Linked DNA regions of Homo sapiens. The protein of the gene in region 1 interacts with the protein of each later gene in a pairwise test. Each region holds a gene or a part of one and is shown on either strand. Other genes may lie near its edges. The genes, in order: BICD2, YES1, ZSCAN23 and DCX.

What was found.
Region 2: the proteins of BICD2 (region 1) and YES1 interact in binary tests that used the Homo sapiens proteins (3 or more experiments, as listed by UniProt).
Region 3: the proteins of BICD2 (region 1) and ZSCAN23 interact in binary tests that used the Homo sapiens proteins (3 or more experiments, as listed by UniProt).
Region 4: the proteins of BICD2 (region 1) and DCX interact in binary tests that used the Homo sapiens proteins (3 or more experiments, as listed by UniProt).

The regions. Positions count from the first base shown.
Region 1 is NC_000009.12:92,712,826-92,719,860, forward strand, and holds part of BICD2 (protein bicaudal D homolog 2), read right to left. Parts: intron 6,758-7,035; coding exon 5,714-6,757; intron 5,124-5,713; coding exon 4,972-5,123; intron 2,639-4,971; coding exon 2,329-2,638; 3' UTR 637-2,328; coding exon of another isoform or gene 631-636; 3' UTR 1-630. UniProt on the Homo sapiens protein: Acts as an adapter protein linking the dynein motor complex to various cargos and converts dynein from a non-processive to a highly processive motor in the presence of dynactin.
Region 2 is NC_000018.10:802,210-809,244, forward strand, and holds part of YES1 (tyrosine-protein kinase Yes), read right to left. Parts: intron 1-7,035. UniProt on the Homo sapiens protein: Non-receptor protein tyrosine kinase that is involved in the regulation of cell growth and survival, apoptosis, cell-cell adhesion, cytoskeleton remodeling, and differentiation.
Region 3 is NC_000006.12:28,433,486-28,440,520, forward strand, and holds part of ZSCAN23 (zinc finger and SCAN domain-containing protein 23), read right to left. Parts: exon of another isoform or gene 6,590-7,035; intron 2,859-6,589; 5' UTR 2,782-2,858; coding exon 2,374-2,781; intron 2,123-2,373; coding exon 1,975-2,122; intron 1,594-1,974; coding exon 980-1,593; 3' UTR 1-979. UniProt on the Homo sapiens protein: May be involved in transcriptional regulation.
Region 4 is NC_000023.11:111,293,244-111,297,192, forward strand, and holds the end of DCX (neuronal migration protein doublecortin), read right to left. Parts: 3' UTR 536-3,949; downstream 1-535. UniProt on the Homo sapiens protein: Microtubule-associated protein required for initial steps of neuronal dispersion and cortex lamination during cerebral cortex development. May act by competing with the putative neuronal protein kinase DCLK1 in binding to a target protein.

The DNA.
Region 1 (7,035 bases):
TTAAAATCTGTAATTTCAAACATGAACCACAATGCCGTATGATCTAAAGGCTGCTGAACCACAGCGTGGATACACTTAGCTGAGCTCCTCGCTGGGTCAAAGCACTCATCTCCGAGTCTAAAGCTACACGCTATGGAGCACACAGCTCTGCCTCGTGCTGACACCAGACAAACACGGTGGGAGCTGAGGCGGACAGCTACAGGACCACGAGCATAGACCACGGCACCTGAGACCGTCTCTACGCGAGGAATTAAGGAAGCAAATATAATATCAAAATATCAAAAGTGCACAGGTTGATCGGATAAAAAAAGAACATGTGTAACAAGGAGCCCCCGTGGTGGGCGTTTCCAGTGGGCTCCTGGCGAGCCTGGCAGCCAGGGAAGAAGGGTCTTCGGCCCATACAGAGGCCTTTCCACGCAGCAGCTCGCAGCATGCTCAACATTAAAGCTTTTTTTCCTCCCATTAAAAACCTGGGGAATGCTATTTTGAAAAGAATTGCAGTGGCATATCCAAAAAGTTTCTAAGTGGGCTTTTAGGTTGCCCTTCCTTCCTCCTTGTGGGCCACGAGAGGGAAGGGGAAGGGGCTGCAGTGTGACAGGGCCGGGTGGCCAAGTCCTCCTGGCAGCTACTCTACAGCTGAAAACGGGAGAAAAGAGAGCGTTAGAAAGCGGTCATCTGTCGCTTCCTGTTTATCTGACAATTGAAGCTCTCCACGTGCTGGGAGGGCGCGAGCACGTTAGTTGGCAGAAGAGAAGACCTGCATGTGTTAGCAGGGGTCCCAGTGGCTTGGGTGTCTGCAAAGTCCCTTAGGAGTATGGAGAGAAGCTATGTGCCAGGCTTGCAAGGAGAGGGCAAAGCGCATGCAGGGTGGGCATGCCAGCAGCCATCCCACTGCGAGTCTTGCTGGGGCAGGGGGATCTGGGCCCAGGATGAACACGCAGGGGACATACATGGGCGTGTCCTGGAGTCTGGAGGGGACCGAAACATACTCGGCACCAAAGGGAAGAACGCGCAGGGCAGAGAGCTGTGGGAGGGGGCAACACGGTCTCTCACCAGGTAACTCGAATGCCTCTTCCGCATGAGAGACAAGGCAAGCAGCCTGCAGGAGAGAAGACTGCAGCCTCAGGTCCAGCTGGTCCCACAGGGTGATCGGGAAAAAAGTACTGAGAAAAGTTCTGCTCAGAATGTGGGAAGGCAGGTGTGGATGGAGCCTCTGGAAATGGGAGAACCCTACAGCTACCTTTCCTCTTTCTCTGTTGCCATCCCCCAGATTGCACTAAATAAAGAGACCTAAACATCTCCTACCTGTGAATCCTGACAAGTGGCCCTGGCCCTATGCAAAGCTTTCCCAGCACCGGGCTGGGCTCTGGATACACCTGTGGGTGTCCAACCCAGCCAAGCCCTTGGTGGCTCAGACTTCAGGCTAGGGTTTTCAAAGCCCCATGTCTTTGGGACTGAACCCCCTATGGAAGGCCGGATAATTGGCTGCTGGGGTCACCCCAAGTACAAAAGGACGGGCTCTGCACTAAGGACCAAGGTCTGGCCAGGCACTTGGAAAGCTTTTCTCATGAAAAATGAAAACCTGGGGCCTTGGGCCCTGCCAATCTGTCACCTCACAGGCCACTATACAAGCATCCTGATCTCAGAAATGAGAAACCGAGCTCTGGATTCCTGGGTTATGGTCAGCTGTGTCTGTGCCATGTGTGTCTGGCCAGCAGAATACAGGGGCTCAGGGCTGCTCTTCTCTGGGCTTGGGGAAGAAATTCTGCACTTCTTTCCTGAATATGATTTGCAGTCAGATACTGCATAAACTACAACGTACTCCTTTCCATGAAACTATGCCAAGTGCAAAGCCATCCTCTGAGGTCGTACCTATGCTGCAGGCTGGAACCTCCTAAAACTGCTTTCTAGTGCTGACATTAGACACATGCGAGGAACATGCAAGTCTCAACTCAGGTTCTGCCCCTTTTGGGTGCTGAGGGAGCAGGACCAGGACTCCTCCCTTGGGTTTCCCCACGGGTGCGCAGGGCTTAGAAGATGCTTTCATCACACATCTGCTGCAAGAATGTGCAGCTCTATCCCCACCTCTGACCCCCACCTAAGAGAGCAGCTGAGGACTGGGTGCTCCTGAGGGGGCTTTGAGGAGTGAGAAGCGACACAAAGCTCTCACAAGTGTCCTGCTGATGCAACGCCCCATGGCGCCTCGGCTAGACTCCTACCCTCTGTGCATTAGTCACGTTAAGATTGACCTAGCACCGCCGTCCCGCTGCTGCTGGGTTAGTTGAGGTGAAGCAGATGTTAGCTGCAGCGTGCGGCGCCCCACAGCCCCTAATCACAGTAAATGCTGTGCTTCTCGCTGCAGAACACCTGGTTGGCCAGCCCGGTGCCCTCGGCCCTGTCGCTGGCACAGGCACAGGTGTGACTTACGCTCGGTGTGGCTGGCTTGGTCTTCGGGGCGGCTTTGGCACGGCCACGCCGGGTCTGCTCATGGTCCAGCTCGAGCAGCTCCAGCCGCTGGGTCAGCGCCAGCTTCTGCTGGATGGCCATGCGCAGCAGCGAGTTCAGCGTCTTCTTCTCGTCCTCAGCAGCCGCCAGCTGCCGCTGCATCTCATCCAGCTGTGTAATGTACTCGTCACACCTGTGGGTACCAAAAACATGACTGAGGGGCGGGCAGAGCCGAGCAGAGGAGGGCAGGGCAGGGCAGGGCTAAGCTGCACGGCCCTCTGACAGCCCTATACCAGAGCCATCCTTCAATGTGGCCTCTGGACTGGAGGGTGTGGCTGGGGAAGAATTATTCTGGCTTATTTTAGCACAGGCTTTGCTTGGACAAATCCCTGATAAGGGTGAGAGGGAGGCTTGGGCCCAGGCAGGGCAGCCCTATGAGGCTGGCTTGAGTTTTGTGGTTTTGTGGGGGAGGGGCTGCTTTGCTCTTTCAGCTGCATGTAGTGCTTACAAACAGGCTATGCCCCTCAGCGACTGGGCTTCTTCTAGGAGGCGCTCTCCCCGCTTAAAGGCCTCGAGGTGGCCTGGGGCATCAAGACATGGAGAAGCCATGGCTTCTAGGGTGTGGATGTAAATCTAAGCAGGACTGGGCTTGTTCCCAAGGTCGATGCTTCGTCAGTCTGTGCTGAGCACTGACCAGAGCCAAGGAACCACGTGTGTGGACGCCATCAACAGCTTCATCCTGAAACCCGGGTGCGGAGCTGTGGGAGGGTGTGGTCTGTCCCTGGATGCCCTTCTTCCACATGTCCCATATGGGTGGGGCTTGGTAGAGACAAAGGGCGGGTTAAATCCCAGGGCTCCCAGGGCGGTGAGGCTGTGCAGGCACTGAGCACAGCCCCACCCTGCCCACACGCACCCTACTCTGCCTGTCCCCACCTGCCAGGAGCCGGCCCTTGGATAGCACCCTCTCCAAGGACTCTGCTGCCCACCCTTTTGAGGGCACACAGAGCTGTGATCCCTGCAGATTCAAAATCTTGGCTCCATCTGAAAAGTTTTTAAATAAAACAAATTTTAAAAGGTAGGGTTTACATGCCAGATACTGAGAAACTGTGGGATTTTTTCCCCAAGCCCCAGGAAGACAGGACGCTTCCAGAGAAATCCTGGGACTCTTCCTTGTCTGTACCCTGCTCTGGCACGTCCTGCAGGGATACTGAGAAACTGGGAGTGCACGGCACCAGGCTTGAGAGAAGCAGGCCCTATGTGCATGCAGTTCCCACCCTGTCCAGCTCAGATCCTCAGCTTGCTCACCCATAAAAAGGAAACATCTAGGTTATCTGCTGGGCCCATGGTGGGCCTGGCTGTCCCCCATGCAGGGCTGACCCCATGGTGCTATCCCAACATGACCCAGCAGGTGGCGCTACCCATCTTTGGAAAGTGAAAGACAGCGGTACCTGTCAGGGGGCACCTGGGAAGATGCTGAAACCAGGACCTGCCCCACAGAGGCCTGTGAACACTTAGGGAGCCTCGATTCCCAGCCTTGGGGTCTGAGTCCCAGCCAGGGAGGGGTGTGCACCCACCAGGGGCAGCCCACCTCAGAGCCCATTACTAAGAGCCCTCCACAGAGGAAGAAAGAAAGCTGGTCTCCTCCAAGCCCCGGCCCTCTCCTCACCCTCCCCAGATTGGCAAAGTAGAGGATGGGAGGTGAGTACCCAGCGGTCACAATGACGCAGAGGTACAGGGCTATGCACAGAGGTGGGACCCGAACTGTGGACCCCAGCAGTGACCTGCTCCAGCCAGGAGGATAATCTTCCTTCTGAATCTACAAACATAAATACACACTTGTGCCATATGGCCAAGTTCTTGGGGGCAAATACCTCATGAGAGGAAAGGCCAGGACTCCTCTGTCACCTGTTGGCCCCAAGTTAAGTCCCTGTAAATGTTGGATTCAAGGGGTGGGAGCCCAAGCATCCCCTGAAGCTATGCAACTCTGGCCCATCCACTCCAGGATCTGCTCTCCTCAGCCCTTCTGCCCTCAGTCTCCATATATGCAAAGCAGAGACAAGCCTGGGCCTGCTGCGGTTTCATTCACAGCAAAATGGAACCGGCGCCACAGAACCAGGCTCCTGGGGGCTGGGCTAGGTGCAAAAGGAACATTAAAAGGATCACACACGCTCTGCTATCCCCGGCCACATGTGGGCACCTGCCAGGCATGCCCTATGCTCCAGCAACTGCTTGCGTGACCTCGGAGGAAGCTGAGGTGCAGCAGCTAGGGGCCCCCAACCCCATGTGGCCCCCATATCGCCTCACCCTTTCTTGTCACCAACTTGAGCACCAGTGTGCCAGAGATGTGCCAGGGGCCATGCTTCCCCAACCTCGTACCATGCTGGCCCTGATGGAGCTGGGCACAGCCACTGACTAGTCAGGGCTGCAGGCCTCAGCATGAGGCAGTGAGAGGCTAAGGGTTCCAGAGGCAAGTGCTGAGGACAGCTGGCCTTGTGGAAGGGGAGGGCCCGACAGCAGCACGGTTACCTGGTGGCAAACATAGCACGCAGCGAGGAGAAGGTGGCTGCGTCCTCCTTGAGGGCCTTGAGCTCATTGCGCAGCTTCATCATGGTCTCGGTAACCATGGCCTTCTCATTCTCATACTTGCTCTTCAGGTTGGCAAGGGCCACCTCGGCCGTCTGGGGGACAGATGTGTAGGGTGGAAAAGTGAAAGGCGTGAAGTCAGCCTAGAGGTGCTCTGGGAGCAGGATCGGGAGCCCCGGTCTGAAGTGGTGGCAGTGCCTGGGAAGAAAGCTCCTGGGAGGCCCCTCCCTGTGACAAACCCTGGGGATGGACTCCAGCAGCTACGCCATGGGGAGTCCCACCTGCTGATTCTGACTGGCAGAGGAGGGACTGCCCCTAAACCTGCCAACAGGACCTCCACGAAGCCCCACAATTGCTCTCCACAGCTCAGACTATGGCTCTCACATGTTTTCCCTCCAGTATCAGGAAGCACTACGAGGCAGTCACAGTGAGTCAAGGGCAGCGGCATTTCTCACTGGCTGAGCAGCTCTGCTGAGGGGCCCTCACACCCACCTGCCTGCTCCACCCTCCCAGCTGGGGGCCCTGAGCAGGGGAGGGTAGGCAGTCGAGCTACTATGGGGCTGGCTCTGTCTGGTGGTGACGCAGGCCTGGGGGGGCCCCGTGGCAGGGGGAGGAAGGAGGCCAAGGGGGAAACACCCTTAGGCCAGTAGTAGGTGACATGTGCCCCTGCTGCCTGGCACCTCACCTGCTTGTTGGCCTTGAGCACAGTGCGCAGCGTGGTGATCTGCTCCCGCTTGGTGCTGAGCAGCGACTTCAGCTTGAGGATCTCCTCCATAAGCGCTTCCTTGTCCTTGTCCACGGCGGGGCCCAGCTCCTGAGAGGCAATGCGCTGGCGTGACAGCTCCGTGGTGCGGTCCACGGCTGCCTGCAGGTGCTTGATCTGGTCACGGATGATAGCGATCAGGTTGTAGATGTTCATGGGCTCCCGGCGTGGGTCACTCAGGGGTGATGGCAGTGAGGAGCCAGGCGAGGGGCTGCTGTCCCCCGTCCCACCATCTGCTCGGCCCGCCTCAGGAGCCAGCAGCCCCTTGGGTAGGAGGATGGGTGAGCGCCGGCCACGCGCCTCGGGGCTGGTGCGGCCCCCGGGACTGGTGCGGCCGGCCCCGCCCTGGCCCTCGCGGTAGTAGTCCAGCATGACACGGTTGGGTGTCTCATTGTTGCACATGCACACGTGGTGGTAGAGATTGGCCAGCTCCTCACTGAAGGTCACCAGCTCATCCTGGGCCACACTCAGGCTGCCCTGTGTCTCGCCGGCGACGTCGCTCACCTTCTTTAGCTCCTTCTCCAGCCGGGCCAGCAGCTCGCGGTCCTGGCGGCTGGCCTTCTCTAGCAGGGAGACCTTCTCCGTGAGTGCCTGGCCCTCAGCCTCATAGCGGCCCTTCTCCTCGGCGTGCTGGGCCTCACGAGCCTCGTGCGTGCTGCGCAGTGCCTTGAGCTGCTCGCGGAGCTCGCCAGCCTCAGCCACAGCCACATGGTACTTGCAGGCCAAGATCTCAGGCCCGTTGATGTCCACCTCGTAGTAGTCCCCATCCTCATGGCTGTCACGGTCCTTCTCGTTGTCCAGGGCTGTCTGCCGCTCCTTGCTGGCCTGCAGGCGCCGCAGGGCACTCAGATTCTCTGTGAGGCGGGTCACCTTCTCCTGCTGTTCTGACAGGGAGCCCCGCGTGTGCTCCAGCTGCTTCTGTGTGTCCTGCAGCGTTGCCAGCAGGCCCGCCTTTTCCCGCTCCATCTGCAAAGGCACAGGCAGCAGGACACCATGTCAGTTGCTATGGACCCCGAGAGCTTGGAGGACCCCCAAGATGGCCTAGTGACATCCCACCCCATGTCAGGGCAGGCTGTCAGCCCCAGGTTCCTTGGCCATGCTGTCAGTGAGGTGGACAAAGACACACAGGGTGTGGAAAGAATGGAATTCATGCTGGGCCCTCAGAACACTAACCGTCACCAGTAATGGTGGTCACCCTCAACGCAGGCTCTTTCCCCAACCATGCTACAGGGGATCTGGGCTAA
Region 2 (7,035 bases), on another chromosome or scaffold:
CTGCACTCCAGCCTGGGCAAACACAGCAAGACCATCTCTCTTAAAAAAGAAAGAAAATAAAATAATTAGAAAGTATTGCCAGGCGTGGTGGCTCATGCCTGTAATCCCAGCACTCTGGGAGGCCAAGGCAGGTGGATCACCTGAGGTCGGGAGTTCCAGACCAGCCTGACTAAAAATACAAAAAATTAGCCAGGCAAGGTGGTGCACGCTTGTAATCCCAGCTACTCAGGAGGCTGAGGCAGAAGAATCGCTTGAACCTGGGAGGCAGAGGTTGCAGTGAGCGGAGACCACACTATTGCACCCCAGCCTGGGCAACAAGAGTGAAACTCCATCTCAAAAAAAAAAAAAAAAAGTATTAATTGAACATTCTCTGCCAGCAATTCAAATGTACTATTTAATGAAGAAGAAAAAAGACAAGAAATCTCCCTTTCCATCATTGCTCCTCATTCCTAAGAAAGTTATGGCATATGGAACAGGCTTGTAGTCAGCCCTAGGTTTAAATCCCAGTTCTGCCGGTTGTGTGACCTTAGCAAATTATATATACTTTCTGATTCTCAGTTTCTTTATCTGTAATAAATACCTACCTCAAGGGGCCCAGCACAGTGGCTCACACCTATAATCCTAGCACTTCGGGAGGTTGAGGCAAGTGGATCGCTTGAGCCCAGGAGTTCGAGACAGCCTGGGCAACAAGGTGAAACCCTGTCTCTATTCTAAAAAAAAATAAAAATAAAAAACAGGCTGGGCATGGTGGCTCACACCTGTTTTCCCAGCACTTTGGGAGGCCGAGGCGGGAGGATCCCTTGAGCCTAGGGGGTTTAAGATCAGTCTGAGCAACATGGTGAGAAATTTTGAATTTTAAAAATTAAAAAAAAAATTAGCTGGGCATGGTGGCTCACAACTGTGGTCCCAGCAGCTACTCAGAGACCAAGGTGGGAGGATCACTTGAACCTGGGAGGCAGAAGTTGCAGTGAGCCAAGGTTTTGCCACTTCATTCCAGCCTGGGTGTCAGAGTGAGACTCCGTCTCAAAAACAAAAAATAAATACCCATCTCATTCCTAATTTTTCTGTGTATTTTGGAAACACATTTCAAAGATTCAAGTCAAATGTGATAATGCATATAAAAGTATGGCATAGCACCTATCATAGGACAGGCTTTCTTCTTTCCCTACCCAATGCCAAAGTGAGGTGAATGGGTGGGAAATAAAAAAAGCACAGAGAAGGTAAAGAAGTTACAAACTCCATATTGTAACACTCCTCATTTTCCCAAACCCTTTTCTACTATTTTTGTTTATTACCCCCAATCTTTTGAAGCTTTTCTATACCTCATACTGTCCTATAGGGTTAGAGTATGAGGCAGGTTTCACTGCCACTAGCAAGCAGGTGGGGAAACCTAGGGAAGTTTCTGTACTTAAATTAAGCTTAATAGCAATGCCTTATTGGGAGAATCTGAGTCTCCTAACAGGGAACTCAAAACAGTGATTTTTAAATAGTGAGGAGCTGGTAAGGTGGGAAAGGAGGGTGACTGGCAAGGCTACAGGTTCACCCACCTCATAATCAGAGCACTTGTAGGCCAAATATTTTATTTGTTCAAAGAGCTCAGCAGTTAACAAAAACCAGGCAAAAACTGATAATCAGTCAGAAAATATTTTACCACCAAAGTATTATTTTACCTATTTGTGAGGCTTTTATAAGACTCCAACGGGCTGCCTAGAAATCAGGCCAAAAGGCTTATGTTACAGAAAAGACTTCCTGGAAAAACAGATTCTAATTTTCAAAACATCAACTTACAAACTTTCAGAACACTGTAATTTTAGTTTCTTTGTTTTAGAAAATCTATTTTACAAACCTTAAAAGGCTAACCATTTTCCAATGCCATGCTTGTCTTGTTCTAAATATTAACTGTATGTGTATAAAGACAAATATCCAGAACAAGTTGTCCATACCTTTGTCAATTAAAAAAATTAAATGTAAATTTTGATGATAGTGGCTATTTTTCTCATATAATGTTGCAAAGTTTTTATTCAAATAGCCACGATTACTTGTTAACTGACATCATAACTATCCACTTCAACAGAATAATTAAGTCATTTTTCTAATTTTATTACGAAAAAATCTGGGCTAGGCACAGTGGCTCACGCCTGTAATCCCAATACTTTGGGAGGCCAAGGCAGGCAGATCACCTGAGGTCAGGAGTTCGAGACCAGCCTGGCCAACATGGTGAAACCCCCATCTCTACTAAAAATAAGAAAATTAGCTGGGTGTGGTGGCACACACCTGTAATCCCAGCTACTGAGGAGGCTGAGGCAGGGAGAATTGCTTGAACCCGGGAGGCAGAGGTTGCAGTGAGCCGAGATTGCACCACTGCACTCCAGCCTGGGCAATAGAGTGAGACTGAGTCTCAAAAAAAAAAAAAAAAAAAAAGGCCAGCTGAGGTGGCTCACACCTGTAAGCCTGGCACTTTGGGAGGCCAAGGCGGGCGGATCACCTGAGATAGGGAGTTGGAGACCAGCCTGACCAACATGGAGAAATCCCATTCTCTACTAAAAACACAAAAATTAGCCGGGTGTGGTGGCACACGCCTGTAATCCCAGCTACTTGGGAGGCTGAGGCAGGAGAATCACTTGAACCCAGGAGGCTGAGGTTGTAGTGAGCTGAGATCAAGCCACTGCACTCCAGCCTGGGCGACAGAGTGAGACTCTGACTCAAAAAAAAAAAACACAAACCAAAAACCTAGCATAGTAGTATAAATGTTTGCTTAATTAGTAGAACTGCAATTTGCTTGAGAAAGTTCCGTGTCAAGTCCATGGGTCAGTTTTTTATAATCTTTACTTATATCTAATGTGATTCCAAATTTTAGACTCAAACATTTCCTTAAAATTTTATCAATACGGTCATGCATCACTTAACATATATTCTGAGAAATGCCTCATTAGGCAATTCTGACATTATGTGAACACTCTAGAGTGTACTTACACAAACCTACGTGGTATAGCTGACTACAACCTTGGGCCATATAGTATGGCCTATTTCTCTCAGGCTACAAACCTGTACAGCACACAACTGTACAGAATACTGCAGGCAACTGTAACAGTATTTGTGTATTTAAACATAACTAAATGTAGAAGAGATACAGTAATTACACAGTATAAAAAAATAAAAAATGGTACACCTATATAGGGCAGCTCTACTATAATCTTACAGGATCACCATCATTGAAACTTCCTTAGGCAGAGCATGACTATATTGTAACAACTTCAACTGCGGCAGAGCACACATTTATATATAAAGCTGAGAAACTATTAGAAACCATGAGGCCCAACTACCTTTTGTTTCAAATTGCAAAACTAACGCCTAGGGAGTTTACTGAATCGACCAAGGCTAAACAGCTCTTCACTGTCAGAAATGAAACTAAAATCTAGATAGTGTTAGTGCTCTACCTTCCAGTCCTTTCCTTATAACACCATATTGCCTTCTCTGCTCCTTCCAAATGTCTGGCTGCTATTATTTTTAAAGTATCCTTATCTGTAAAATATTAATCACATCAGAACAAAAGTTAGAAGTCAATACATTCGCCAGGAAACAATGTGAAGTATTAACTTATACACAACCACCACCAACTTCCTCACCTCACCCCAATTTCTACTTAATGCTAAGAAACTGAAAAGTTACATTAAAAAATTAGAGAAGTGAAAATCCTCTTAAGTCAGTTGAAGAAAACCTAGAATCCACATTTTGCTGGGAATAGAGGCTGAAAACCAGACAATCTTGAAGTTTCAGGGGTCAGTACTTTTCCTCCTAGCACTTCCTGTTCCGTCCTCACCCCCAATAACCCAGCAAAAGTACACCTATGAATTATGCATTCCTTCACACACATTACTGCAAGAAAATCAGGACTTCTTTTTCTTTTTGTCCTAGGTATATATGAACAAGTCATAATTGTAATACTGATTGTCACTACTGTGATGAGATACCAAATGCATTTTTTAAAAATCTAGGATTTTTCTTCAGCATAACTTGGACTTTCTTCACTAAAATAGTACAACGTATTTATTTAAAATAAACCTTACTAGAGACTAGTTTAACTTCAACTACAATGAATTTTCAGTTCATATTAGAAATATCAAAATGACCTTTAAATTCATATTTGAAGGACTGCTTAAGCTATTTTGTAAAATCACCTTCTAGAACAAAACCTTGAGAGCAAAAATCTAAAGAATTAACTTCGAGCTATGAAAAAGTATTAAGCTAGTTTTATAACATTTTAGTAGAGGTGTACTCAAAAGATTTGTTTTGTTTGCGAAAAGTCCATAGCTGTAATTCATATAAATCTGCCCAGAACCACATCCCTACATACAATTCAGAATTTATTTAGTATTTATTGTGCTAAGGGCTGTTCTCAAAGATTGCTATAAAACAGTTCCTTGACACAGTGAATACTAGGTCAAGAATAACAGACAAGCATGGAAAGAAATAATTACAGTGCAAGGAGAGGTGTGTTTTGACATAAGTGTTTTGTGGGAGCACAAAGAGGTCATAACACCAATCTCTTGCTAAGTATATGCCATAATGATGTGTACTTCTTACTGTTCAAATGCATGGTCTAACTGTACCTCATCCTTCCTCTGGTTATACAAGTTTGAGCACTACTTTTCTCAATCCTCTCTAATCTCCATCCCAAATGCCAAACCCCAAACTACCAAATTCCAAAGACAAGATAAGTCAAAGGAATATCTCCAGATTTTCAGTAGATAGTAGTGGTAAAAGTAAGGACAAGACGCTGCTGTGGCTGGGTGTGGTGGCCTGTAATCCCAGCATTTCGGGAGGCCCAGGCAGGTGGACTGCTGGAGCCTAAGAATTTGAGACCAGCCTGGACAACACGGTGAGACCCCATCTCTCCAAAAAATTCAAAAATTAGCCAGGCATGCTCCAGTCTGGCCAACATGGTGAAACCCTGTCTCTACTAAAAGTACAAAAATTAGCCGGGCGTGGTGGTGCACGCTTGCAATCCCAGCTACTCGGGAGGCTGAGGCAGGAGAATCACTTGAACCTGGGAGGCAGAGGTTGCAGTGAGCCAAGATCGTGCCATTGCACACCAGCCTGGGCAGTAGAGTGATACTTCATCAAAAAAAAAAAAAAAAAATTAGCCAGGCATGGTGGTGCACACCTGTGGTCCGAGCTACTCAGGAGGCTAAAGTGGGAGGATCCCTTGGGCCCCAGAGGTCAAGGCTGCGGTGAGCTGTGACTGCACCACTGCACTCCAGTCTGGGCAACAGAGCAAGATCCTGTCTCAAAAACAAAGCAAAACACAAAAACACAAAAGATGCGACTGCTGCTATTTGCTTGGCATATTTATAAGCTGAGCAGCATTTTAGAAGCAGCAAAATTTGCCTATGGCATCTTCCAGTCTGGGGATTGCCATATATAGCTGATAACGTATTTGCAACTGTTGATGTCCATCTTCTCAAACGCCAGGGATAAAGAAAGAACAAAAGGAAAAGAATGCAGAGTTCCTACTAGCAAAATTCAGGCAGCCACCACGGATATGCAATGTATAGCTAATTCTAGAAGTTATCCCTCTTGAAGGCCTTCCACTTCCTAGGAGAAAGTAGAGTCCAAAGAACCTATATGCCAGCAATTCTACTCCCCTCCCCTAAACAACAATAAAAGAAGCAATTCTAAGAATCACAGCTTAAAGTGAAATGAAGTATAATGCTTCAAGGAACCTGCAGTCTCACAGCTTACTGTACATTTGAACAAGAGAAACTGAAGGGCATTGCTACCCTAGATTTGGGGGGGAAAAGGAGTTGAGGCACAGAGGCTTGTAACTCAGTCCATTAGTACCTCAACAGTACATTATTCTATACTCTAAAATTACAGGATTCTCTGTCTTTCCTGGAGTGGGCTTTCAGATCTTAAAGGTAAACCCAACGCAGACCAGGATATATTGCCATCAAGTCTGCTAGTTCCAAGACAACAGTAGTGCTGCTGCAGCCAACGATTCCTTGGCATACAGACATGTGAAAACGATATTGGCGGCAGCACTGGCTCTTCTCTTTCACCCTCTACTGTTACTATAGCTCCTTTTGCTAAATCTGCCTCTGAGTTTAGACAGGAGCTGGATGGTTAGTAATCACCCAGCAGCTGCAGCTGAGCAATACTCAGCCTAATTGTGGCACTGGAGCAGCTGAGAGGAAGAAAAGAGATAATACATACCCTACCATAGCCATACACGAACTACCAATAAGACAAGACACTTTAATAGAAACAGATTATTTCCTTTAAAGAAAAGCAGTTGTGCCTCGCTATAGGACTTATATTATAAAACTGTTTAAATGTGAACTGAAGGTGACCTAAGCCATGTAGGGTTCTAAACAATGGAAGATCTTACTAAAACTTCCTGTAAATATTCACACAACAAAGCGTGCACCACAAACATCACCTTTATAACATGACTGAAAGTTCCTGTGATATAAAAATTTGGCACAGATGAGATCTCTTCTTCAACTCTACAACAATGCAAAGCCACAATATCAACCACTAAAATAGCAAGCCATTACATAAAGCAAATAAAATAGCATGACCCAATGATTCTCTGCATTTCTGAAACTCCAACACCATATTGTCATTTGCCTTTTGAACCAAAACATATTCATCCTTCAGGTGCTGTGAATCTTCATAAACTTTAAACAAAAACTTATTTTATGCTGAGATTTCATGGCATTCTTAAGAATAGAAAAACTAAGGCTGAAATTACTGATCTAAAGAATTACTGTTCTAGAAAACCGAAAATAGATAAAAGTCAAAACTTAGGATCTTGATGCCGTAATTGAGTTTTGAGTTTTAATTGTCATGTTATGTAATTTTCAGAAAAACAGAGTATTTGATGACAGAACAGTATCCATTCGTTCAATAAACATTTTGATTATCTTCTATTGGTTATTTACAACATACAAGCCGAAGCGGATTTTAATTTTGTAAAACCTGTGTCTTCTGTGAAAATATTAAAACAATTAAGTTATTAAAGAAAACGAACTA
Region 3 (7,035 bases), on another chromosome or scaffold:
TTTTCCATTTCTTTGTCTCCTGGACCTTGTGTAAAGCTTTGTAAAGAGTTACTAAGTCAATGTTAAGGGAAATAAATTTTTTTATTTATGATCTTGGTGGTAATCAATAGTAAATGCTGAGAAAATGTGGAGGTTATAAAAACAATCAACATGAAAGAGTGATCATACTCTTCTCTTCAATCTTGAATATGTTTCAAATTTTCCATACAAAATATTGAATAAAGGAGAAAAAGGCAAAAACAAAAAAATGCTCATTATATGTTACGGGAAAAATACAAAGAGGCCTGTATTTTCCAATAAGAAATCTGAGGTGAGATATCAGATTTTTAGCTAAGTTTCTTAGCCTCTGCGTAAATTTAAAATCATGAGCAATATTTGTTATGAGGAGCCACTGAGCTGCTAATAACATATGGCTGCTTCAGTTCCTTGGTTCCTAAAGGCTAACTAAAAAATCTATAGAAATCTAACTTACTATAAATCTACATTTATATAGGAGGATTCATCTGCCCCTTTTTGTAGGTTACAAAACAAATTATCATATTTTATGTGAATGGAAAGAAGTCAGGAAACCTATATTATGAATTTTATTACAATTATTTTTAAGTTAATTTTTAAATACTCGGTGAACTGCATTTGAGATTATTTTGTACTCAGCCTACATATAACTATTTTAAACTTTTAAAAAAAGTTTTTAAAAACTAGGATGAAGAAGTTTTCCTGAAATAGAAAACTTCTTGCACAGATGTGTGTGAAACTAGGTCTACAGCATACATGATGAAATCAACACAAGAGGCAACATTCAGTATTGCAAAGCTGTGGATGTCACTGATCAGAGAACTCGGCAGATGTATTTAAGATATTATGCTTCTCTCTGCATAAAAGTAAGGGAATTTTTACTGGCTTTCCCTTGAACTTTTCTATGCTAGAGGACACAGCAGGGACAAAGTAAGAAATATTATCCCCTACCTGTTCCAAGGAGCTAGCTTGATTCAGCCACTGGGTGGACTTTCCGATGCTGGATTAGGTTGCAATGGTAAATGAAGTTCTTGCCACATTCTTCACATTCATAAGGTCTCTCTCCAGTGTGAATTCTCTGATGCTTAATGAGGACTGAACGTCGACTAAAACTCTTATTGCACTGATTGCACTGGTAAGGCTTCTCCCCAGTGTGAATTCTGAGGTGATGGAAAAGCCCGGCATTCTGGCTGAAGGCTTTGCCACAAACACTGCACTGGTAGCGCTTCTCCCCAGTGTGGAGTCTCTGGTGCTGGAATAGGCCTGACCTCTGGCTGAAGGCCCGCCCACACTCATCACATTCATAAGGCTTCTCACCTGTGTGTGTTCTCTGGTGCTCGATAAGGATGGAATTCTGGGTGAAGCTTTTTCCACATTCACTACAGATATAGGGTCTCTCCACTGAAGAGCTCACCCTTTGCTTTTCCAATCTGCCCTCACGGTCACAGGTATCTCCATACTCAGGAATCTGAGTAATATTACCATTCTGTTTTCCAAGAACTTGTATAAGAGATTTCACTTCCTGAGAAATCTCCCTCTTTGGGGCTAACTCCACATTCCAAGTCCCAGCCTTGCCATCTAAAATAACGATAACATGAAAGATAACATGAAGTATGAAAAATAACAGATTATCTTTCCAAAGACAAAAGAAAAAAAGTGGCCAGGAGAATGGGTGGAAGGGGACAAGTAGCCACTTTTTCTGTTTATTTTTCCACTCTAAAGCTATTATACCCAGACCTCAGGGAAAAGATGCATGGTATTATAACTGCTTACTTAATTGTCTGCCTCTCCCACTAGACTGTAAACTTCGTGAGAGTGGGGACCACATCTGCCTTGTTTATCACTGTATCCCTGGTACCTGGCACAGTGCCTGGCATACAGCAGACACTAAATAAATGGGTTGAATTGATAAATATTCAGGGAATGAGGTAGGCTGTCTGAGGAAATCCTGATCCTCACCAATCTCTTGAACTGGGCACACCTCTCGCAAATTATACCCAAGTTGCTCTTCCAAGGTTTGGAATTGGTCATTTGATGACTCCTGAGCTGCTCCTGGAGTTGCCTTCTCCTTTACAAACTCTTCCTGTTCATGAGCATGGCTCAGGACCTGGTGGAAATCAAGGACAGTTGGGAACCCAATATCAGAGAGAACATGGCAAGGAGGCCTCCTCAGGGCCGCTGGATAGAAAAGAAGGACCAAGAAGCTGGCAAAGAAAAAACAGAGGCAGAGAGACTAAAAGCCTACAGAAGATCAAGTCTGGCATAAAAAAAAAATCCTCCTCCTCTACCTTTTCTTGTTGCACTGAAACCCCATACTTGTTCTTATAGGTACAAATCCCTGTTCTCCCATCTTCTCACCTGCTCTCCTGGGTCATCCAGCTCTCTCTCCAAATCCTCCAGCACAGTCACTGCCTCCTCTCCACTCACAGGACGGTGCTGTCTGACCCAGGCCTGGAGCTCCTCAGGCAGGATAGTCAGGAACTGCTCCAGCACCAGCAGCTCTAGGATCTGCTCCTTGGTGTGCATCTCTGGTCTCAGCCACTGATGGCAGAGCTCCTGGAGTCTTTGAAGAGCCTCCCGGGGCCCAGGGGACTCCTGATAGCAGAACTGCCTGAAGCGTCTACGAAAGATCTCTCTGGTATGAGGGTTATTTCTTGACAGGCCTGATTCTGGCCCACAGGAATGTTCCTCCTCTTCCTCCTTTACCTTCACTGCCAGAAGTCCTTCCTGCATCTCTGCAGTCTGAAGGGTCAAGGTTATGGCCATCAAAGGTTTAACTATTCAGAAAAATAATCTATTCTTGATAATTCTCCCTTGATCTTTTCTTCTGGAAACCCCGAGATCTAGACAATAATTTACGAAGAAAAAAATATAAAAATGCAGAAAACCTCAGGACAAGGAGGGACTGGAGTATTTACACTAAAATCAGTCACTCTGTCTCATGAAGGAACACCAAAACCTGATTAATGATAGATACTTTAGAAATACAAATCCAGATAATATAGGAAGAAAAAAGAAATGGAACAAAAACGCCTACAGTTTTCTGAAGGAAGGTACTGTTTCAATCATCCTGACCGAAACAGCTCAAATCAGCTTGAGTATATTGGGTTTCCATTTGAATAGCAAGATACTAAATTCAGGGTAAATTTTAGCTGTATGAAGGTAAAAAAACACTTTGGGCCCAAGTGGTCACAGATGACACCAAGAATCAAGAAGAAAAGGGAAACAAATGGAGGATGGAGGGAAAGTAAAGAATATAAAAAGAATAAGAACCGTAAGAAATGCACTTGGAGAGAGGAGGCAGAGTCCCTCCAGCCATAGAAGGTAGAGTCCCTCCAGCCATAGGAGGTATGGAGGAGGGAGATCTAGGTTTAAAGTGTGTAAGGTCTTGGACTGAGACATCAACCTGCAGGTATTCCCTCCAGAGTCTTGGGCTTCATGTTTTGAGCCTTGGTCTCTTCAATCTATAAAACAGGAATCCTAAAACCAACACTGCCTATCTTTCTAGGTTGATACAAAGATAAAACGAGGATAATGAGCACAAAGAAGTTGGCTACTTAGTAAACTCCAAAGTGGTAACACTTATTTTTCTTATGTTATTGTATGATTAAATGAATATCCTAGTGGTTTAAGGCTAAGGCAAAAGAATCAGAAAGTAGTTGACTGCAGTGGTCTAGGCTCAGAGATACTAAAATGACGGAAATATTGGTTCCAGTACTTTAAAACAGGAGTAGAATTTGACCTTTCTCTTGCCCTTTAATTTCTTTGAAACTTTTTCTCTTTGAAGCTACTTGAAGGTGGAGAGTAGGCAATTTTATGTAAAATAAAATTACTGCTAATAAAAAGACAAATGTCTATGACTCCTGAGGTCAGGAGTTCGAGAATAGCCTGGCCAACATGATGAAACCCCGTCTCTGCTAAAAAATACAAAAATTAGCTGGGCTTGGTGGCACACGCCTGTTATCCCAGCTACTCAGGAGGCTGAGGCTGGAGAATCGCTTGAACCCGGGAGGCAGAGGTTGCAGTGGACTGAGATCACACTACTGCACTCTAGCCTGGGCGACAGAGCAAGACTCTGTCTCAAAAAAACAAAAACAAAAACAAACAAACTTATGAGCAATCTTTACCAGGATAGTAATTAATGAAGAAAATTTTCTGAAAGAAAAACAATTATATGACCCAGTGATTTCTAAGCACCATCTTCGAGTAGAGACTTTCAAACTTTTTTGACCAGGACTCTTATTAAGAAATATTTTATATTATAACCCAGAACACACATGCATATGTATATATGTTTGTGCATTTATGAGATACACAAATACCTAAAATAATAATTTCACAAAACACTATGTATCCTTGCTCTATATAGTGACATACAATTATTTTTAAACCTATTTCATTAAAAGACAAAACAAAAAAGCCTGGGAACAGATTTTGTGGGTTATAAAATCTATGTGGTGGGTTGTGACACACCACATAGATTTTATGACCCACAAATGAATAATAACCTGTAGAATAAAATATTTTTGTTTTAAGTAAAATTGTTGTAATCCATTGCAAAAATAACCCTACTCTATTCTGTTTGTTGTTTTTTGTTTTTGTTTTTGTTTTTTTGAGAAGGAGTCTTGCTCTGTTGCCCAGGCTGGAGTACAGTGGCACAATCTCAGCTCACTGCAACCTCCGCCTCCTGGGTTCAAGCAATTCTCCTGCCTCAGCCTCCTGAGTAGCTGGTATTACAGGCACCCACTACCATGCCAGGCTAATTTTTGTATTTTTAGTAGAGACAGGGTTGTACCATGTTGGCCAGGCTGGTCTCGAACTCCTGACCGCAGATGATCCACCCGCCTTGGCCTCCCAATGTGCTGGGATTACAGGCATTAGCCACCGCGCCCAGCAACCCTACACTATTCTTAAGGTGTTGACATGCATTGTGAAATTAAATAACTAAGAATAGGGTATTTTATTAGTCTGTTCTCAAGCTGCTACTAAAGACATACCCAAGACTGGGTAATTTATAAAGGAAAGAGGTTTAATTGACCCACAGTTCAGCATGGCTGGGGAGGCCTCAGGAAACTTACAATCATGGTGGAAGGGGAAGCAAACATGTCCTTCTTCACATGCAGCAGCAGGAGAAGTGCCGAGCAAAAGGGGGAAAAGCCCCTTATAAAACCGTCAGATCTCATGAGAACGCACTGTCACCAGAATAGCATGAAGGTACCTGCCCCCATAATTAAATTGTCTCCTACCGGGTCCCTCCCACGACACATGGGGATTATGAGAAATTGGGAACTATAATTCAAGATGAGATTTGGATGGGGACACAGCCAAACCATATCAGGTATTTAAATTACAAGTGAACACTGATCACATTACAACCCGAAGAAAAATTAGATTCATATTGTGATTATTGGTTATATTTATCAAAGGGGAAACAAACTACTGGCATGGGACAGCATCCTTCCGGATAACCTGCACACATAATCCTCTCCATAAAGTTCTGACATCTTTGGTTTGGTTACCTTCTGTAATCACTACCCCAGGAAATGTACAGAGGATTTTTTTCCTCTAAAGACAGAATCTGCAAATTCATGTTTTCCCCCACTTTTTTTTTTTTTGAGACGGAATCTCACCCTGTCGCCCAGGCTGGAGTGCAACAGCACGATCTCAGCTCACTGCTTCCCAGGTTCAAATGATTCTCCCCTCAGCCTCCTGAGTAGCTGGGATTACAGGCACCCGCTACCATGCCTAGCTAATTTTTGTATTTTTTTGGTAGAGACAGGGTTTCACCATGTTGGCCAGGCTGGTTTCGAACTCCTGACCTCGTGATCTGCCTGCCTCAGCCTCCCAAACTGCTGGGATTACAGGTGTGAGCCACCACGCCCAGCCTTCCTCCACTTTTCTTGGTGCGACTCACCACCACTGTGACTACCATACTATCTTTTTCTGTCATAACTTTTCATACACCATTCATTCACTTGGCAGATATTTATTCAGAGCCTACCAGCAAATATATATTCAGAGCCTACCATATTCCATGTACTGTTCTAGGCACTGGGGATACAGCTGCAATTATAACGAAGTCCCTAGTCTCATGGAATTTACATCCTAATAACAGTATTAATAATAGCGGACATTTATAGTGCTTTTAACGTGCCAGGTATTGTTACAGATGCTTTATATATATTAACCCATTTAATCCTCAAAACAACCATGAATAAGGTGCTATTATTACCCCCATATCACAGATGAGAAAACTGAGATATGAAAAGTTTAAGTTACTAGTCCAAAGTTCAAGTCAGTTACAGATAGTAAGCAGTGAAGCTGCAATTCAAACCCAACAAATCTGACATCAGAATTTACAGTCTCCACTGCTACAACACTAACTTCTGTTGGGGAAAAGAGGGGCCAGGATGAGGAAAACGGGTCAGAGGAAACAGATAATAATTAAGTATTTGTGAAGTAGTGATAAATGCTATAGAGAAAATAAAGGTAAGGAGAGAGAGAGTAAGGGGAAAGAAAGGTTGCTATTTTATAGAGTCAGGGAAGGCCTTGATAAGGTAATGGTTGAACAGACCTGAAGGAAGTGAGGAGCAAGTCACATGGCTATCTGGAGAAAGACTGTTCCATGCAAAGGTAACTGCCAAGTGCAAATTTTTGCAGGTGGGAACACACCTGGATTCTTCAGGTAATAGCTAGTTGAACAATGGCTGGAACAAAGAAAACAAAAGGGAAAGTAACAGGAGATAAAGCAGGGAGCTTGGGAACTGATCATGAAAGGCAGTGGTAAGGGCTCTAACTTGTATTCTATGAGATATGGAAACCACTGGGGATTTTTGAGCCAAGGGGTAACAAAATTTTACTTCCATTTAACACAAAAGCATAACTCTAGCCGCTGTGTCAATGACCTTGGGGTTAAGTGGAGGCAGAGAGGGATGCTATGATAATCATCCAGGGAAGAGATCATCATGGCTTGAAACATGATCTGCTGAATTGGTTCTAGGGTAAGAAAGTTTTGTGGTA
Region 4 (3,949 bases), on another chromosome or scaffold:
CCCAGTGCTTTGTGTTCTTTATCCCATTAAAACCTGATCTGAGAAAACTATGTCATCAGTCATTTACGTCTGAGGGTAAATAAGATATCTCCGTGTTTCCTCTCACAGAGAGTAGCTGCACCATCAGCCTATTGAAGAAGAATAGCCACACTGTAAAAGAAATTGCAAGCAGCAGGTAGAGGTATTTTGGGGGGCATGGAGTGTTTCTTGGGCTTCTGAAAACATGGTACTAGAAGTCACCACCTGATGACACAGGCTGACATTGGCCAAAGCATCTTATGCATAAAAGGAGGTCACTTTATTCCTGCTCAACTCTGGGGGGAGATCTGAGATCTTATTTTTTGTAAATGTGCTGTACCAATAATTATGGTGTTTCTATCATACATTTACTCTCAGCTTCTTCTTCTATAAAATTAAGAGGTTGGAAAAAATAATATCTAAGTTCCCTGCCAGCTTGGACATTTTGAGGTTATATGATTATTGGTTCAGTGTTTTTTGTTTTTGTTTTTGTTTTTAAAAGAATGTCAGCCAGAAATATTGAAATCAAATTTTATTTTTGGAAAATGACATTACACACATCTTGCAAATGTACACAGAAATGAGAATGCGATGAAGAACAGAGCTTGAGAGCCAAAATAATTGCAAGAGCAGCTCTTTGGCTGCCTGGTATTGAATGCTGCGAATCTTCAGCACTCACAGTTCACAGCACCTTACACACATGGCAAACTTCTCTAGACAACCTTGAAGTCCTCTGACCCAAGAAAGCCCTCATTGAATTGCGGAGGGGGTGGGGGAAGAGGGGTGTTACAGGCACAGGAGATGAAAAGGGTCTGCTCCAGCTGGTTTATGGGGGCCTCACCAAACCTACCAGTCCAAGTGGGGTCAGCAAACCAAAAAAGGAGAATGCCTCTTGAAATACTGCTTTTGAATCACAATTTCAGAGTAGGTTAGGTATTGCCTAGGACACTGATAGTAATGCATTTGAACTCATGCCCTTGTTTTTTTTTCTGGCTATAACTATTCTAAATAGGTGGCTAAAGTTCTTAAATATCTGTTTTATTTCTCTCATTTTTTCTTTTTTTTTCAAATAATTATTGGTCATCGGTCAAGCAGAGTCTTCTGAGGTCTCTATCTTAAAACAGCTGCAGGGATAAGGGACATCACTACCTACTGTCTTTGGATTACATGTGATTCTGAAAACTATTCAATCCTGAAATGTAATCAAATGGCCAAATACAACCCCAATTTACCACTGATTTTTACGTAAAGTTGAGTCTTTGATCACAATGCTGTTCCTTAAGAAATGATCAATAACTGCTGAGAGATGGTTGAGAAATGCCTTTTCCCCACATTTTGGTTTGTTTGTTGTTTGCTGACTTTACTTGGCAAGAGTTATTGGGCCTCAAATCAGATATTTACAACTGTAAGACAACTGGGAGCAGGGAGAGGGAGAGGGCAAGGGGGTGGGAAGAAGGACTACAAAGAAGAATATATTCTTTTCAGAGGTTAAAACGAGTTAAGAAATGTGATGTACAATACCATGCATTTACTCTCCAAAGCTAGTCACTAGCAAGCTAACACCTCTAACACTACAACCACCAATTACAGCTGTTTTGCTACAGGTACTCAATTCTAACTACAGCTATAGGGCAGAAAGGGTGGGCTGTTTCCATTTTAAACTTTCTCCCTTTGAAAATGGCCATAAAAACATTTTCTGTACAAGTTTAATGGCACAAAAAGGTGATCAAAAACATTTTAAAGAACTTACCACACGTGGGAAATGCAAAATTCAATAAAACATGCATTAGTTGTATACAAGTCATAAGGGATCATTGGCTTCAAGCTGCAATATATTACAGGACCATACATTGGAGACATTTTGGCATAACCTCTTACTTGTTCAAATCCCTTTTGGATAACTTATAAAGAAAAGTCATTGTAAATTTTGGCATTCCATATGGTATTGCCAAGCAGTGACATTTCCAAGGGCTTTGCACTCTGTTTAATAAATTAACACCTACAATCTGGCTTCTTTAGGTCCACTAATTTCTCTTATATGGACTGTCTATTCAGTATCATGAACAGTTGGTGTCAAGAGTAAATGTTTAGGTGACTCAGAAGGAAAAAATACATGTCAATTAAGCAAATGTCTCTTTTTATAGTATAGATTTGTTAAATTATCTTTTCATTTAAATCAACTCCGATTGCCTACCAGTTTAGTTAAAACAGCTCAACAGTTAGCAAGCCCCAAACAAGATTATTATAGAGAGTTTAATGTGTAATGGTAAAACTTTAAGCAATTACTCCCCCACCCCCATCCAGCCAAAACAAATGACAGGAGAAATTACCTGTGGTCCCTCATTATATTATATTGCAGCTTTAAAAATTATGGGCACATCAAACAAAATCAATTATTAGTATTTAGCTGATATAAATCCATGGGTGGATTTTTTCTCTTCAGCTGATTATGTCTCTGAGCACGCTTCACTGCTCCACAAAATGTCAGACTAAAAAGGAACCACAAAGTATTCTGTACAGTGCTTGGAAGGCAAAGACCTAAAGATACATGAGCTATAAGGAAACTGCTTGTAAAGATCTGCTGAGGGGGATTACGAATGAAAATGGAGAAGAAGAAAGGGCCAGGATCAGGTTGATTCCCACCAACATACTTCTGATTGGACTGGGGTAGGACCAGGGCTGATTGAATCTGGAAATAATTTATCATCAGTCCCAAGGCAAAATCACAGGCTAAGAAGAGGCACATGCCCAATGCCTAGACAGGGAGGAAGGAAAAAGTACAAATAAAGATAATAAGAGGGAGAGACAGAATTGCACAGGAGAAAGGATGGATGTTTGTACTGTGGAAAGAGAGACTGATAACATAGAATATAAACTGAGAACAGAGGAAACTAGACAGAGAAAGAAAAGTCAAAGAGATACACAAGAGGTAGAGCGGCAAAAAGCCATTGATTCCCTCAGGTTATTGACCTAGTAATGAGAAACGCTAATGCCTTCAAGTCTTTGCCTTACTTACAAGGTGACTTCTGTTGTGCCATCTGACCTCTCCCAACTAACCTGCCCTTCTGATCAGGAGCAGAAAGATGCCTTAATTACCAATTGGAATTCTATACTCCCCTAGTCTCAGGCATCCAAGGTAAGAAAAAATCACCTCTGATTCCAGAAGATGTTGAAGCCAATAAACCAAGGGATAAAAAATTAGTCTTGTCAGCTGGGCATGGTGGCTCATGCCTGTAATCCCAGCACTTTGGGAGGCCGAGGTGGGCAGATAATTTGAGGCCAAGAGTTCAAGACCAGTCTGGCCAACATGGTGAAACCCCATCTCTACTAAAAATAATAATAATAAAAAAATAGCCAGATTTGGTGGCGCACGCCTGTAATCCCAGCTACTCGGGAGACTGAGGCAGGAGAATCGCTTCGACCTGGGAGGTGAAGGGTGAAGGTTGCAGCGAGCCAAGATTGTGCCACTGCACTCCAGCCTAGGTGACAGAGGGAGACTCAGTCAAAAAAAAAAAAAAAAAAAAGTTAGTCTTGTCAAATGATAGCCAATGTCACGCTAGCTAAGCCAAAGCGGGAGGTCTGCATAGATCCTTAACAAGGAAACAAGGCAGGACGCAACACTAAGAGTCTGGGTGTATAAAGACCATACTAGACTTTTGGAGACAAAAACAATTTCTGGGGACCAGGCTTTAGGAGAAAGGGAGGGAAGGCACCTTTTCCTGAAGGGATAGATGGGGCAACATTCTCATGCCTCACCCCAGATGAGCTCCAAAACACTTATGGTTCACTTGGGAGACCAGTCTGGGACTTAAAGCCAAAGCCCTTCAGTGAAGGCAATATATGAGTAAGGCCTGGAAATGGATCCAAGTGGCCCTATGTGGCCAAAGACAGGTTCCAATCATCTTTTTAAAAAATCAATGCCTTTTATTTC